Linked DNA regions of Homo sapiens: region 2 is linked to region 1. The links come from fine-mapping of genetic effects on plasma protein levels. A gene starts in region 1. The other region holds a variant in brackets. All regions are shown on one strand. Distances are between the middles of the regions.

Region 1 (2,893 bases):
GCGAGCCGGAGCCGGCGTGCGCAGCCGCTGCCCTGCTGGAACTGTGCCGTCCCGCTGTGGCCCGCGGCTCTGCTAGGCGGTGGATGCTGCTGCTACGCTCTCCACCGGCGCAGCGAGGAAGGGGGCGGGGAGAATCCCTGGCACATGCCAGGGTCGCCGTAGGTGGCAGCGGCCGGCGCATGCGCGCCCTCTCCCAGAAGCCAGGAACGCCGAGGGGCGCGCTCCCCCATTCGCGCGCGCACGCCGGCGCTGGCCGAGGCTTCCCCGCCTGCGCTCGTTGTCAGAGCCGCTCCGGCGCGTGCGCGCGTTATCTCCGGCCGACCCGAGCAGCCGGTTCCCTCCTCTCCAGGCCCCCTCCCCATCCCACCCCCGCCGCCTGGCCCCAGCCGACCCGTCCCTTCGTCTCCCCGCGGAATGGGGCCGGCACTGCTCAGGGTCGCGCGCCCTGGACCCAGCTCGCTCTCGGTCTCGCGCTGTCAGCGACTGCCCGGCTCGCGCCGCCTCGCGCTCTGCCTCAGTCAGTGGCGCCGAAGGCTCCGTTAAGCGGCGGCGGCGGTTCCTGTTTCCGTTTCTTCCTCTCCGTTCGGTCGGGAGTAGCATCCTCCACTCAGCCACCCTTCCCACTCCCCCATCGTGGGGCAGCTGCGGCTGAGGGCTGTGGCTTTGGCAGCTGCGACGGGGAGCGGCGGAGACCGCCTCTGCTCCCGCCTGGGGTAAGGGGGCGTTTTGGGAGCCGGGCCCCGCGCGCCTCGGGGTCTTGGGCTGGGCTGCGCGCGGGATCTGAGGAGGCTCCGCGGCTGTCCCTGCTCGTTCACCCGGGCCTGTTGCTGCAACTGCTGCCGGTTAACCAGCGGCTCTCGGAAAAGTGGGGAGGGAGCCCCCGGGACGCTCTGGCGGATGCCTTGGCGCAGCCCCGGGGGCGCGGGCAGAGGGTGAGGGGCGCCCGCCTCTCCAGCCGGGACGCGGAGCTGCGCCGCTGCTGCCCTCGGCGTCGCGCATCCTTGCCTAGGGCAGGGGCCAAAGCCTAGGGAAGGAGAAGGGTTGGGGGCGGGGGTGGGAGGTGTCCGTCGTTTCCCCTCCACACCTACCTTCCCTTCGTCAGCAGCTCGGTCCCTGGAGTCGCGGTTTGTGGGGAGGAAGATGCCCGTGCGTTATGGGCTCTTTCTGAGTGCTGCTCGGGCTAGAAAGCAGGGAGTGGACCCTCACAAAGATCCGCGAGGGACTGATGCAGGGCAGTTAAAGGCTTGAGTGCAGCTGTACTCCCTTTTGATGTGCAAATGACGAGCTGGCGGCTTTTGAGTATCAACTTATTTGGGAAGGTTAAATGAGTCCATATTTATCAGTTCTAGGAGGTTTGTCCTGCAGGATTGAGTGGGTTGTCGGGTGCAGCACCTGTTCTTTCTTCACAGTGGGGATTGCAATCTTCAGAGACGCAGTGTATTTCTTAAGTGGCAGTGTCATGCTTAGGGTTTGTCCCGGATGAGCTTTTATTTTAGCATTTTGCCATATAATATATAGATTGAGGCCTTGGTTAAAGGCACGGACAGGTGGTGTTTTTTTCCTTCCTATGTTTTAATTATTCACAGTTTATTTAAACCCACTCAGGAAGGTGGACCCAGAAAAGCCAAATTCTGTAGTACATAACCCCAAATTTCAAGGTTTTGCGGAACAAATTCAACACAAGTTTTGTGTCAGTTTAGAGTTAAACGCATCTCAAGTAACTGACTTAACTGGCTTGCCTCTATGAAAACTGTAGGCAGGTTTCATTATAGATTTTTTTTTTCTTGTTATTCCGGCGGTTAGGTGCATGTTTATTTTCTTGATTAAATTTACATTCTATGTTTTATGACTAATTCTTTAAATAGGTGCATCATATAGAAAGTATTTTAGGAGAGAAATTATTATTTAAGCACTACAGTATATCAGATATATGAGAAATAATGGAGTTGTAGTCTCTGCTCTTTAAAATAACTGTAAAAACATCTTAAAACCCTATGCCAAATAATAAGGCCCTGTACCTTGCTGTCCTTGTGAAATCTGGTATGTGTATAGAAAATCTTAATTACTTGATTTGTAAATACTACAGTAGTATTGAAAAGGTGGGAATTCAAGCATTTGTAATTGTGATTTCACAGGTTTAGTGTGTAAAAAATGCAGGGAGTTAGAGATGAATAGGCTATAAGACACGTACAAAGGTAGTTCCAAGACATGGATTTTCTTTTTGCTGCCTTATAAATTGAGAATTCTATTTGAATTCAAGAGCTGAACAGCTGGAATGAAACTTGCATAGATTGCAGAAACAGATGCAAAAATGTATCTTTGGTCAAGTTGTGAGTTAACTTGAAGAGTGTCTTGTGTAATAGGATAGTGATTCAAAATAATTTCCATAAAGTACGGCCTTATATAGGTTATATTTTGAGGATATTTTTGAATTTAAAAAGTCACCTGAAGTTGTTTTCCTACAAATCAGTTCTGTTTAAGATGTATGGAATCGAAAAAAACAAAACAAAACTAATTCTGATTACATCCTGCATTGTTTTGTTGCAAATTCTTACCAGTTATTTTTACGCAATTGGAGTGTCCTTAAAAGTGGTGAATCTTAAAATTTGCCAGTGGATTGGAAAAAACTGTTAACTTATTATTTTTAAAAATGCTGTTATATTAGTACATTGGTCTGGAGGGGGAGCTAGTGCCAAAGCAAAGTATAGCTTAATAGCTGTTTGAACTTTTAAAACACCCAAAACCAGATTTTTATGACCAAAAGAAACATAAATTTTTAATTAAAAGAGTAGGAAATTGATGTGGGCATATATATGTACATAGTTATTTGTGGAGTGAATATATTGTGTATTACAAATTAGTTTAAAAAAGTCTTTTCATGCGCTGCAATAAT
Region 2 (2,915 bases), 81 kb before region 1:
ATCTATGACCTGGAGGCCCCCTCCCTGCTTCAAGTTGTCCCACCTTTCTGATTGAACCAATGTACATCTTACATATATTGATTGACGTCTTATGTCTTCCTAAAATGTATGAAACCAAGCTGTGCCCCGACCACCTTGGGCACATGTCATGGGACTTCCTGAGGCTGTGTCACGGGTGCATCCTTAACCTTGAAAAAATAAAGTTTCTAAATTGAGACCTGTCTCAGATATTTGGGGTTCACAACCTAAATTAATGAGATTCTGAAGAGATGATTAAATATAGAGTTTGTAACCATAATCGTTTCATTGCCCAATGTGCATAGCAAGTCAATACGCTGAAACACCTAGTTGCAAGAGAGAAAGAGGTTTAATTGTAGGGCAGCTGAATGTGATGGGAGGAAACCTCAAATCAGTCTCTCCAAGGAATTTGGGTCTAGAATTTTTAGTGATTTTGGAGTGGGCTGAAGTGTGGAGATCTTTGCTTGGCCCAAGGGTGCAGGATGAAGTCATAGAACAGGGAGATGAAGAAACTATATTCTCATGCTGATTCTGCTCTCCTCTGGGGGTCTTCAAACTTGTTGGCATCAGCTCAAATTTGGGATCTGAAAAACATCTTAAGCAATTCTTAAACAAAAGCCTTATGATTCTAATGTCAGAGATTCTATCTATCTTAATCAGAGGCCTGATGATTCTAACCTCAGACAGAAATACTATCTGTAGGAACAATGAGGATGCAAGTGGTCAGGATCTAGTACTCCACAACTTTCACTTCCTGTTGTTACAAGGAAGTGAGCCACAGTGCAGCCTAATTAATGCTTAATCATAACTATATTTCTGTCCAGAATTCTTGTTAACATGGTGAAGATGGCTTCAAGTTTATTCAAGCTCAAAGCTTGAGGGTGGCCACCCAAGAGCATAGATTCAAGTTGCCCTAAACCCACACTCTGATTAGAAATAGCTACAAGAGGATTTTTAAGGAATAAAGAAGAGGCAGCTCCTAAATTGTTTACCAAGAATTTATACTAAAATAACATAAGCTATTGATTGGGTATGTGTTATTCTTTGCATCACAAATTCCAACATGAAGATAATGGGTAAGGCAGTTAAGCAGGAACAAAATGCCTTTACACAGTTGCCCTGGACATGGGCGCAGAGATGTGACTGAAGTCCCATACTCCTGTCTCTCCAGGCTTGATAAATTTTGTATACTTCACATAGCTCAGACTGATCTGAGCTATTTTTCTTTCTCAGCGGAGTCTCCGTAGTCTCCGTAATTCAGAGGCACACCAAAATTTGAAAGCCAGCTCTACCACTGACTAATTGTGTGATTTTGGACAAATTAGTTCATCTCCTAGTATCTCAGTTTCCTCATTTGCTAAATGGGGAAAATAACAGCTCCAACATCATTGAGCTGTTGTGGAAATTAAATTAATTTAAAATGAAAGCACTTGGAAGAGTACTTGGCACATAATAAATGCTCAATAAGTGTTAAAGATTGCTACTTTTCCTGTCCCTTAGCAACTAAAAAATATCTTTTAAGGAGCGCCATTTCCTGGACATACTACAAAAAAGGGGAATTGCCTGCATTTACATAGATTTTTTGATAGTTGATGTCTCTGAGAGCAATATTCTTTTAGCCCCTTCTCTAAATCCAGGTTTATGCCTAATTTAGATCCCACGGTCTCCTGTGGTCCT[A/C]ACCACCTTGTGAACATGTTATGAAGGTAAATTGAAGTTAATCTAGGGATGGAATGATGAGAGCAGGTAAAAGATAAATAGTTCAATGGTTCTCAACCTTGGCTATACCTTATAATTATCTGGAGAGCTTTAAACAATGCCCAAGTCAGCTGGGCATGGTTGCTCACGCCTATAATCCCAGCTCTTTGGGAGGCTGAGTCAGGAGGACTGCTTGAGGCCAGGAGTTTGAGACCAGCTAGGCAACATGGTAAGACCCCCTCTCTATTATATATTAAAAATAATTTTTAAAAAATGCCTAAGTCACACCCCAGACCAATTAATATCAGAATCTGTGGGAACAGGGCTCAGCTATCAGTCTATTTTAATCTCCAGATGATTCCAGTGTGTAGCCACTGGCCTCATCTTAGCTCGGCTGAGCTGGTGAGACCCAGTAATCTGTATTCTAACAAGCCTTCTGCAAATCTCAGGACCTTTGGTGTGAACCATCCCATCATCCTCCCAATGTCCAGGCCTCTGATTTCACTTCTCTGCCCAGTGGGTGTGACTTGAAAGCAAGAGAGGAGGTGCAACAACCCTTAGTTTCTGTAAGAAGGTACAAGGAGACCAGTTCTGTATATCAAATCCTGGTTTATTCTAGCCAGACCTGTCTTAGGGACAATGATGGTCTTTCAGCCTAAATGCTTGCTTCTCAGGAAGCAGGTGAGCCAATGAAGGGCCCCACTCTCTCCAAGTGGAGACTATAGCATTTGCCTAAAATACCCCTTCTCTCCAGTCCTAACTGTCCTGGAAGCTTCTCAGAGGCCAAATATGTAAACAAGTTCCAAACCAACACATCTGCTTTTCATTTCCTGCGGAATGCTAAAACGAGTCTTTTAAGGTTGCTTAAAATATGTTCTCTCCTCCCGCCCCACCCCCCAGGGCATTTGCTGTGCGTCCTCAGACCACCTCAGCTCCTCCTTCCCTACACCTGGGACTCTTCTGCGCAGACTTGGCTTCAAACAAGGCTCACGGTTCTTCCTGGCATTTGCTTTTTTGGCTTAGCGAGTGCACATTCAATATCTTTTTCTTCTTTTTCTTGAAAGCACTGTCTTCAGTCTCCTCACTTGTCCCTTTCTCCTCTGGCAAGCGTAATGCTATCAACATTTGAAAGTGGCCTGATTCCCTGGTGTCTGGTAAATGGCCTTGCTGGTGAACTTCTTTAGGAGAACTGCAAAGAAACT

Alleles and levels. Alleles are on the strand shown, and positions count from the first base shown. The strength of an association depends on the size of the effect and on how common the allele is.
With allele A in place of C in region 2, the plasma level of the protein whose gene starts at base 229 in region 1 is higher (strong association).

Evidence for each region. PIP is the posterior inclusion probability: the model's chance that the variant is causal. The UK Biobank Pharma Proteomics Project read protein levels with antibody pairs (Olink). The fine-mapping took linkage between variants from a reference panel, not from the people measured, so its PIPs are less certain.
Region 2: its variant is fine-mapped to the plasma level of the FUT8 protein (UK Biobank, PIP above 0.99).

What each region holds. Positions count from the first base shown.
Region 1 is chr14:65,412,502-65,415,394 of GRCh38, forward strand. It overlaps FUT8 (fucosyltransferase 8), which reads left to right and starts at 229. Exons shown (of 11, transcript NM_001371533.1): 1 at 229-713. It overlaps FUT8-AS1 (FUT8 antisense RNA 1), which reads right to left and starts at 116. Exons shown (of 1, transcript NR_024334.1): 1 at 1-116. RefSeq lists silencers at 268-427, 728-847, 858-1,047 and an enhancer at 970-1,534.
Region 2 is chr14:65,331,908-65,334,822 of GRCh38, forward strand. No RefSeq gene overlaps it. Among named protein-coding and RNA genes, the nearest start is that of MIR4708, 1.8 kb to the right of the region's middle. The variant A/C (reference allele first, on the strand shown) is at 1,696.